3 linked regions of the Homo sapiens genome follow. The protein of the gene in region 3 purifies or fractionates together with the protein of the main gene of each other region. This does not show direct contact. Each region holds a gene or a part of one and is shown on either strand. Other genes may lie near its edges. The genes, in order: SCAP, ECEL1 and TSPAN16.

Region 1 (3,653 bases), on a different chromosome or scaffold from region 3:
GAGGCCAAGGCAGGTGGGTCATGAGGTCAAGAGATCGAGACCATCTTGGCCAACATGGTGAAACCCCGTCTCTACTAAAAATACAAAAATTAGCTGGGCGTGGTGGCAGGTGCCTGTAATATCAACTACTCAGGAGGCTGAGGCAGGAGAATCGCTTGAACCCAGGAGGTGGAGTTTGCAGTGAGCCAAGATTGCGTCACTGCACTCCAGCCTGACAACAGAGTGAGACTGTCTTAAAAACCAAAAAAAAAAAAAAAAAAAAAGAAAGAAATTCTCCCCATTACTTTGTCCAAAGAAAAAAGTGGGAACCCTGAATAGCCAAAACAAACTTGAAAAACAAGAACTAAGTTGAGGACTCACACTTCCTGATTTCAAAACTTACTATAAAGCTACAGTAAGCAGAACAATGTGGTACTGGCATAAGGTCAGACATATAAAACAATAGAGAGCCCAGATCTTCTGTAGTTCATCAGTATGATACCTGGGTGTTTCACACACATGTGAGATGAGTCATTCTTGAACCTTGTTATGATGTCAGCACTACCCATCTAACCTGAAAAAAAGAAAAGAAGAAGAAAAAAGAACCCAAAAATAAACTCTCACAAATATAATCAACTGATTTTTGACAAAGATGCCATGACCAGTCACTGGGGAAAGGACAGTCTCTTCAACAAATGCTACTGGGAAAACTGGATAGTTACACGCAAAAGTGAAGTTGGACTCTTATACACAAAAATTAACTCAAAATAGATCAAATAAATGAAAAAAGAAGAGCTAAAACTGTAAAGCCCTTAGAAGAAAATATAAGAAAAAGATCTTCATGATGCTGAGTTTAGCAAGGATTGAAAAGTATAGGCAACAAAAGAAAAAAATTGATAAACTGGAATTCATAAAAATTAAAAACTTTTGGCCGGGCGTGGTGGCTCACGCCTTAATCCTAGCACTTTGGGAAGCCAAGGCAAGCGGACTGCTTGAGCTCAGAAGTTTGAGACCAGCCTGGACAACATGGCAAGACCCCATATCTTAAAAAAAAATAAATACAAAAAAAATTAGCCAGGCATGGTGGTGTGCACCTGTAGTTTCAGCTACTTGAGAGGCTGAGGTGGGAGGACTGCTTGAGTCCAGGAAGTGGAGGCTGCAATGAGCCAACACTGTAGCACTGCACTCCACCCTGGGTGACTGAGGGAGACTCTGTCTTAAAAAAGAAAAAAAAAAAAAAGTTAAAAATTGTGCAAATCACACAATAAAGAGAGTGAAATGCTAACCAACAGAATGGGAGAAACTATTCACAAATCATATATCTAACAAGGGTTTAATATCCAGAATTTGTAAAGAATTCCTACAACTCAACAATAACAACAAAATAACAATTAATAACTCAAAGTGAGAAAAGGACTTGAATGAACATTTCTCTAAAGAAGATATACAGGCTCGGTGGGGTGGCTCATGCCTGTAATCCCACCACTTTGGAAGGCTGAGGTGGATGGGTCACTTGAGCTCAGGAGTTCAAGGCCAGCCTAGGCAACATGGTGAAACCCCATCTCCACAAAAAATATGAATATAAGCCAGGCATGGGGGCACATGCCTGCAGTCCCAGCTACTTGGAAGACTGAGGTGGGAGGATCACTTGGGACCAGAGGCTTGAGGCTGCAGTCAACTGTGATTGCGCCACTGCAGTCTGGGCAACAGAGCAAGAAGACCCCGTCTCAAGAAAAAGAAAAAGAAAAAAAAACCCAAACAACAACAAAAAAGAAGATATACAAATGGCCAATCAACATATGAAAAATTGCTCAACATCAATATTCCTTAGAAAATACAAATTGAAATCACAATGAGATACCAATTCCCACCCACTGGCCCTTGGGTACATGTGCACAACATACAGGTTTGTTACATATGCATACATGTGCCATGTTGGTGTGCTGCACCCGTTAACTCGTCATTTACATTAGGTTTATCTCCTAATGCTATCCCTCCCCCCTCCCCCCATCCCCCGGCAGGCCCTGGTGAGTGATGTTCCCATGTCCAGGTGTTCTCATTGTTCAATTCCCACCTATGAGTGAGAACATGCGGTGTTTGGTTTTCTGTCCTTGCGATAGTTTGCTCAGAATGATGGTTTCCAGCTTCATCCATGTACCTATAAAGGACATGAACTCACCTTTTTTTATGGCTGCATAGTATTCCATGGTGTATATGTGCCACATTTTCTTAATCCAGTCTATCATTGATGGACATTTGGGTTGGTTCCAAGTCTTTGCTATTGTGAATAGTGCCGTAATAAACATACGTGTGCATGTGCCTTTATAGCAGCATGATTTATAATCCTTTGGGTATATGCCCAGTAATGGGATGGCTGGGTCAAATGGTATTTCTAGTTCTAGATCCTTGAGGAATCGCCACACTGTCTTCCACAATGGTTGAACTAGTTTACAGTCCCACCAACAGTGTAAAAGGGTTCCTATTTCTCCACATCCTCTCCAGCACCTGTTGTTTCCTGACTTTTTAATGATCCCCATTCTAACTGGTGTGAGGGTATCTCATTGTGGTTTTGATTTGCATTTCTCTGATGGCCAGTGACGACAAGCATTTTTTCATGTGTCTGTTGGCTGCATAAATGTCTTCTTTTGAGAAGTGTCTGTTCATATGCTTCACCCACTTTTTGATAGGGTTGTTTGATTTTTTTCTTGTAAATCTGTTTAAGTTCTTTGTAGATTCTGGATATTAGCCCTTTGTCAGATGGGTAGATTGTAAAAATTTTCTCCCACTCTGTAGGTTGCCTGTTCAGTCTGATGGTAGTTTCTTTTGCTGTGTAGAAGCTCTTTAGTTTAATTAGATCCCATTTGTCAATTTTGGCTTTTGTTGCCATTGCTTTTGGTGTTTTAGTCATGAAGTCCTTGCCCATGCCTATGGCCTGAATGGTATTGCCTAGGTTTTCTTCTAGGGTTTTTATGGTTTTAGGTCTAACATTTAAGTCTTTAATCCATCTTGAATTGATTTTTGTATAAGGTGTAAGGAAGGGATCCAGTTTCAGCTTTCTACATATGGCTCCTGGATCGATAGTTTCTATGTAGAATAATGAAAACATTCTGGAAATGGATAGTGATGATGGTTGCATAACAATGTGAATACATTTAATGTCACTAAATAGTACACTTAAAAATGGTTAAAATGGGCCAGGCACGTTGGCTCACACCTGCAATCCCAGCACTTGGGGATGCCAAGGTGGGCAGATCACTTGAGGTCAGGAGTTCAAGACCAGCCTGGCCAACATGGTGAAACCCTATCTCTACAAAAAATACAAAAATTAGCCGGGTGTGGTGGCACATGCCTGTAGTCCCAGCTACTTGGTAAGCTGAGACAGAAGAATCGCTTGAACCGGGAGGCAAAGGTTGCGGTGAGCAGAGACCACGCCGTTGCATTCCAGCTTGAGTGACAAGGAGACTCCGTCTCAAAAAAAAAATCACCAAATAATTTTTGTTTGTTTGTTTTGAGAGTCTTGTTCGGTCACCCAGGCTGGAGTGCTGTGACACGATCCTGGCTCACTGCAACCTTTACCTCTGGGTCCAAACAATTCTTCCTCAGCTTCCCAAGTAGCTAGAATTACAGGTGCGTGCCACCATGACCCTGCTAATTTTTGTATTTTTAGTACAGGC
Region 2 (2,907 bases), on a different chromosome or scaffold from region 3:
ATGATCAGGCAGGGCCAGCCGGCAGCCTCCAGCCTGGGCAGCACTCCCTGCCTCTGTCCACCCTCCTCATGCCAGGAGCCTACCATTCCTACCAGTCCTCTCCTTTCTGCACCCCAGAAGCCTGTCTCCACACTGGAGGAGAGGCTGAGATGTCCTGTGGGTCAGCCTCACCTCCATGTAAGTGTGGATCGCTATCCCCTTCTCCAGGGAGGCTGAGGCCAAGGGCCAGGCTAAGACAAGGCAGAAGTTTCTCCTACTTCAGACTTGCAGGGGTCATAAGCCCCAGCATCACCCTGGAATGCGGGTCACCAGGCCATGAGGCTGAACTAGGGGTGCCCCAGAACTGGGCAAGAAGCCCTGGGCGAGGCTTTGGGGGAGGGCGGCTGGGCCAGGGAAGTACTGTCGGTTGGTGGAAAAGATAGAAGAGTCCAGGAAGGCTGGACACAGGCGGCCAAGCCAGGGCGACCAGGAGACAAGAAGGTCCTCTCCAGGGTCCCGGTTGTGCTAAGTGCCCTAGCCTCCCTGCAGAGGGCTCTCTCCAGCTCCGCCTGCCCTGGGGACCCGTGAAGAGGCCAAGGCAACAGTGCAGTGATTTATTGACCAGACTTTGCAGCAAGAACACAGCGAAGGTGGGGCCCGTACAATCCAGCCTGGCAGAGGGTCTGGCCCCCTTAGAGCAGAATCTGGGGACCCCAGTATATTTCCCTCACAGCCCCCCAAAGTCCAGCCTCACCCTGCTCCAGGCCCCTCCTGAAGTGAGGGGCAGCAGGGGGACCGGGTCCTGGAGGGGCTGGAAGGCAGGTGGTGCCCAGAGCGGGGCTGGCACCGGGTGCATGCCTGCCCCGGTAGCCAGCAGGAGGTGATTCGTGCGGGGGCAGTGGGGGCGTGCAGGCGGGCAGCCAGGCTCACCACACGGAACACTTGTGGGCAGGGTTCATGGGTGAGTCCTTGGGACAGTGGAAAGCCCGGCCAAACTCCTCAAACTGGGACACACTGCCCAGCACCCTGGGGTGGGGAGAGACCCACACAGTGTTGGGCCCTGCAGCCACTCCAGCCCCAGCAACCAGGGGTGACTTTTATTCCTTCCCATGCCCCCTGATCCCACCCCAAACACAAGGAGTGGACAAGGCCAGGCGGGCAGGTGGGCATACCTGTAGTGCTCAGGGGCATGCTTGTCAGTCAGCACCTGCAGGTAGATGGACTGCGACCGCCGCTTGATGCACCAGTTCTGGGTCCAGGAGCGGGGTGGAGGGGAGGAGGGGGAGATGAAGCCAGGCATCCGCCCCCTTGCCCCCCACCCAGCACACAAGGCGGTAGGCCCCCTCAGCACCACAGGACCATCACCTCTGACGGGACAGGTGATGACAGACAGGCTGTCCATGCGAAGCCTGGGCAAGGCAGGACTGGGACTGACCCTGGATGCCGTGTCCCCACCCCAAGGCTCCCAGTCCAATCCCCCACCCAGCCCACCTGGGCAAAGGCAATGAAGAAGAGCTGGTCATGTGTGTACTTGAGCCGGGGAAGTGGGTGCTCTGGGCCGTGCTCCCGCACCCACTTCTGATAGGCCTGGGGACACAGAGAGCATGGACCTGCTATGCCCGCCCACCCTGGGCACCGCTTCTTCTCTGTCCTCCATCTAGGTAGCCCTCCCTGCTCTCCCTGTGAAGGGGGGCCCGTGAATCCTTCCTCTTCCAGTGGACCGTGGCCCCAGCACATGCCCTGCCCCACCCCAGGCCAGAGCTCAGCAGGGTGGGCAGGGAGAGGCAGCTCTGTCCCTCATCTGGAGTCCTCATCAGCCCCCGTCCCTCCTGCAGCAGGGGTGGAGCACAGGCAGGCCGCTCACGTGGTAGGCCAGCTTGAGGCCGCCCATATCTGCGATGTTCTCCCCAAGCGTGTGTTTCCCGTTCACCTGCCGGGAAGGGAAGAGGCCAGGGGGCTGCTTGGGGCCCAGCTGGCCTCCCTCAGGCATTGATACCCTGGGCCCCAGCCCCTAATTCCTACCACCCCTCTCCTTCCCTTGCCCAGAGAGTTTGAGGGGGGGCTCCAACCCTACTCTTTCCTCCCAACCCCCTTGTCCTCCGTAAGTCTGCGGACACTCATTATCTGTCCACGTGAGTGTGCGTGGGAACCGAATGTGTGTGCAGGGACCTGGGCACAGGTTTTGTTTGGACATGTGCACGTGCGCAAGGGTGTGCGTGATGCTCCCGGCCCGTGCCCCACCAGGCCTGAGGGGCACAAGGGGCAGGTGGGGGTCTCACCCGCTGGTTGTAGACAGTGAAGTTGTCATAGAGACGGACGATGCACTCAGCCTTTCGCAGGAAGCGGCTGTAGGAGGCCTCCGTCCACCAGTGCAGCAGGTTCCCTGAGCGGTCATACTGGCCCCCTGTGGGCAGTGCAGCAGGCTGAGACCCACCCTCACCTGAGCCCCCTCCCCTCCCCACCCACCAGCCCCAGTTAGGCCATCCCCTACCCTGCCTCTCCACTGCCTGTCCTGCCCCCTCCGGGCCATCCCCTGGGGCCCCAACAGGCCTCACCCCAGTCGTCGTAGCCGTGGGTCAGCTCATGTCCAATGATGGTGCCGATGCCCCCGTAGTTGAGAGACCTGGGCCCACAGCAGCAGCATCAGGCCCTAGCCCTCCACCCTCTGAGAGCCCCATGCTGCTGCCCAGGCCCCAGATGTCCCCTGGCCGGGCCAGGAGGTGGCACAGGGAGGCCACAGAGGCATCCGTGCGGTCCAGGGGCACATGTGCCTCAGCTTCCTCATGCGCTATGTGAATGCCAGTGGAACCTATCCAGCTTCTTTTAGGAAATCACATCTAACAGAGCTGGCTGGGCAGTGAAACAGGGCTGGAGGAGACAGGAGGGAAACGGAGGCACCTACGTAGGGGTTTCTCCTCCTACCTCATC
Region 3 (3,753 bases):
ACCACAACCGGCTAATTTTTTGTATTTTTAGTAGAGACAGGGTTTCACTGCATTAGCCAGGATGGTCTCGATCTCCTGACCTCGTGATCTACCCACCTCGGCCTCCCAAAGTGCTGGGATTACTGGCGTGAGCCACCGCGCCTGGCTTCAAATGACCTCTTAAATAAAGGTGTGGAAGGACACACTCCTGGCTGTGAACAGCACCCGTGGTCCAGGAGGAGACAGCACTCCTCTGTGAACATCTTGCTTAGTTCTACATGTTCCAAGAAGCAGGCGATTTGACAGACATTCATTAAATTAATTAAAGTGTAAGGTATTTTCTCCCATTTGAACCATCCGCCTTCCCCCAATCCATGCAGGACCTGGACCCAGACACACCCCAGCCCAGGGCTGGACAGAGAGGGGATCGGGGTGGGGCAATGTGAAGCTGCTATGGTTAGGGTGGGGAGGTATGGGGGCAAAGTGGGCTACAGACTGCAGGATCTAGGCCTGGAGGTCTTCAGTGCTGACATACAGAAGGTTTTTGGTCCTGAAATGCTAACTACATCTATCACCATGGAGAAAAGCCCAATGACCTGCTACTTGGGAGGCTAAGGTGGGAGGATCACTTGAGCCAGGGAGGTCGTGGCTGCAGTAAGCCATGATCACACCACTGCACTCCAGCCTGGGCAATGGAGCAAGATCCTGTCTCAAAAGAAAAAAACCCAGTGACCAATGGCTCACAGTTCCAGGACTCTCTGCCTTACAGGTTCCTGCCCTCATGTTACTCTTGGGGCTTCAAAGCCTGGTCTTGCTTCCTGTGTGGCCTCAGGCAGTTCCCTTGGCCTCTCTGAGCCCTGTATGAAGGATGGGCCAAGTATGGGCTTGGGCTTGGGAGGCCCGGTGGCTTGTAGCTAGATTTCTGCATCACAGAGCCTCTGGATCCATTCATTCATTCTCCGCGGGTTTCTTAAGTACTGCAGTGCCAGGCTTTGGGGACACAGCTGTTTTTGTTTTTGTTTTGTTTTGTTTGAGACAGAGTCTCACTCCGTCAACCAGGCTGGAGTGGAATGGCACGACCTCAGATCACTGCAACCTCCACCTCCTGGGTTCAAGTGATTCTCCTGCCCCAGCCTCCCAAGTAGCTGGGATTATAGGCGTGTGCCACCACACCCAGGTAATTTTTGTATTGTTTGTATTGTTAGTAGGTCTCAAACTCCTGACCTCAGGTGATTCGCCCGTCTCCGCCTCCCAACATGCTTTGACTACAGGTGTGAGCCACTGCGCCTGGCAGGGGTCACAGCTGTTAATAGGACAGCCCAAGTTCCCCCCTCCCCCGCTTGGATCCCCCAGTCTACTAGGAGATGTCAACTGTGCAAGTGGTTAGCTCTGGGCACTATGCCCACAGGGTCCTGGTGGCATCTGGAGGGTACCAGGGTAGCATACCATGCCTGTTCTCTTTCCCTGCTGTGACCTGTTTGAAGGATGAGGAGCCAACAGGGGGCAGTTTGGGGCACCTGATTTCCCTGGACCATGAGCCTTGCTCCAGAACCCAATTGTGATGTGATAAAAGGCTTATGACCAGGGCAGGGGGCAGCTGCTGGGCCGCCTTGGACAACCATCAGGCAGCCAGGACACAGAGGGGCAGAGCAAGTCAGCATTGGCGCCCCTTCCTCAGATCCCTATCATCTTGGGAAACAGTAGCCCAGAGGTTCAGGAAGATGTTAACTTAAATGTTCAGGGTGCCCCAGTCTGTTCAGCATGGCTGAAATCCACACTCCGTATTCTTCCTTGAAGAAACTGTTATCTTTACTCAATGGCTTCGTGGCTGTAAGTATGTCACAATCCAGGCCCCTGGTTTGTTGCAGCCCTTCCTCCACAGTCAGCTCCCTGAAAGACAGAAATAAGTTGATCCAAATTGGCATCGAGATCTGTGGTTCCCTGGAGAAGCAGGAGGGATGTAGGGCAGACGGAGGAGGAGGAGCAGGGAGCGTGGGGACCTCCATCAACCGAGAGCTGGTGAAATCCAGCACAGATGAGTGTGATCTGGGGGAGCCCAGGTGGGTGATGGAAGAGCTTGGCTCTAAGTCAAATCCTGTAGCCGACCAAGTTGTTTGGGAAGGCCAGGAGAAAGGGTTATTTTCTTGATCTTTTAAATTTGTCACATTTTTTTCCTTACCGTAAAAGTAACCCGAAATGTACATTGCTAAGGAATTGTCAGGCCGGGGGCGCTGGCTCATGCCTGTAATCCCAACGCTTTGGGAGGCCAAGGCGGGTGGATCACGAGGTCAGGAGTTCAAGACCAGCCTTGGTCAATATGGGGAAACCCCATCTCTACTAAAAATACAAAAAAATTAGATGGGCGTGGTGGCACGTGCCTATAATCCCAGCTACTCAGGAGGCTGAGGCATGTGAATTGCTTGAACCTGGGCGGCAGAGGTTGGCAGTGAGCCGAGATTGTGTCACTGCACTCCAGCCTGGGCAACATAGCGAGACTCTGTCTCAATAAAAAAATAAAAGAATAAAAACATAAAAAGAAGTAATTGTCTTCATTGTAGCATAGTCTAAGGAAAAGCTGCCAGGAAAGAGAAGGAAATGAAATATCACTCCTCCTCTTCACTTGTAACATTTTAAAGAGAATTAAGGCCGGCTGTGGTGACTCATGCCTGTAATCCCAGCACTTTGGGAGGCCGAGGTGGGCAGATCCATTGAGCCAGGAGCTCGAGACCAGCTATAGTGAGATCCCCATCTCTATTTAAAAAATAATAATACAAAATAAAGTGTTATTGGAACATGGCCGTGCTCACTTATTTGGAGATTGTGAACAGCTGCTTTTGGGCTACACCAATAGAACTGCGTAGTTTCAACAGACACCTTAAGTCCTGCAGAGGCCACAACATCTGGGTTTTTCAGAAAAAAAAAATTGCTAATCCCTGTCCTATGACATTATTTTATTTTATTTTATTTTATTTTATTTTGAGACGGAGTCTTGCTCTGTCACCCAGGCTGGAGTGCAGTGGCATGATCTCAGCTCACTGCAACCTCCACCTCCCAGGTTTAAGCGATTCTTCTGCCTCAGCCTCCTGAGTAGCTGGGATTACAGGTGCCCACCACCACGCCCGGCCAATTTTTGTATTTTTAGTAGAGACAGGGTTTCGCCATGTTGGCCAGGCTGGTCTCGAACTCCTGACCTCAGGTGATCCACCTGCTTCGGCCTCCCAAAGTGCTGGGATTACAGGTGTGAGCCACTGTGGCTGGCCTATTTTATTTTTTGAGACAAGGTCTTGATCTGTCATCCAGGCTGGAGTACAGTGGCACAGTCATAGCTCACTGCAGTCTCAACCTCATGAGCTAAAGTGATCCTCCCACTGCAGACACCTGAGTAGCTGAGACTACAGGCACGCACTACTACTGGCTATTTTTTTTTTGTTGGGGAGAGGGTACAGATGAGGTCTTACCAAGCTGGTCTTGAACTCCTGGGCTCAAGTCTTGGCCTTGGCCTCCCAAAGTGCTGGGATTACAGGCATGAGCCACCGCACTCACCCAGTTCTATTTGTATACAACTAACAGATTACTTTTCTTCCTTTCTGGTTTCTGTTCTAAAGGTGTCTGGCATCATCCTAGTTGGCCTGGGCATTGGTGGTAAATGTGGAGGGGCCTCTCTGACGAATGTCCTCGGGCTGTCCTCCGCATACCTCCTTCACGTTGGCAACCTGTGCCTGGTGATGGGATGCATCACGGTACTGCTTGGCTGTGCCGGGTGGTATGGAGCGA

The links.
Region 1: the proteins of TSPAN16 (region 3) and SCAP purify together in Homo sapiens (affinity purification with mass spectrometry; one large-scale study listed by BioGRID and IntAct). This does not show direct contact.
Region 2: the proteins of TSPAN16 (region 3) and ECEL1 purify together in Homo sapiens (affinity purification with mass spectrometry; one large-scale study listed by BioGRID and IntAct). This does not show direct contact.

The regions. Positions count from the first base shown.
Region 1 is NC_000003.12:47,465,895-47,469,547, forward strand, and holds part of SCAP (sterol regulatory element-binding protein cleavage-activating protein), read right to left. Parts: exon of another isoform or gene 2,159-3,653; intron 555-2,158; exon of another isoform or gene 455-554; intron 1-454. UniProt on the Homo sapiens protein: Escort protein required for cholesterol as well as lipid homeostasis.
Region 2 is NC_000002.12:232,479,248-232,482,154, forward strand, and holds the end of ECEL1 (endothelin-converting enzyme-like 1), read right to left. Parts: intron 2,603-2,907; coding exon 2,535-2,602; intron 2,384-2,534; coding exon 2,259-2,383; intron 1,910-2,258; coding exon 1,844-1,909; intron 1,567-1,843; coding exon 1,471-1,566; intron 1,229-1,470; coding exon 1,152-1,228; intron 1,006-1,151; coding exon 906-1,005; 3' UTR 580-905; downstream 1-579. UniProt on the Homo sapiens protein: May contribute to the degradation of peptide hormones and be involved in the inactivation of neuronal peptides.
Region 3 is NC_000019.10:11,294,558-11,298,310, forward strand, and holds the start of TSPAN16 (tetraspanin-16), read left to right. Parts: upstream 1-1,602; 5' UTR 1,603-1,740; coding exon 1,741-1,809; intron 1,810-1,945; exon of another isoform or gene 1,946-2,039; intron 2,040-3,584; coding exon 3,585-3,753.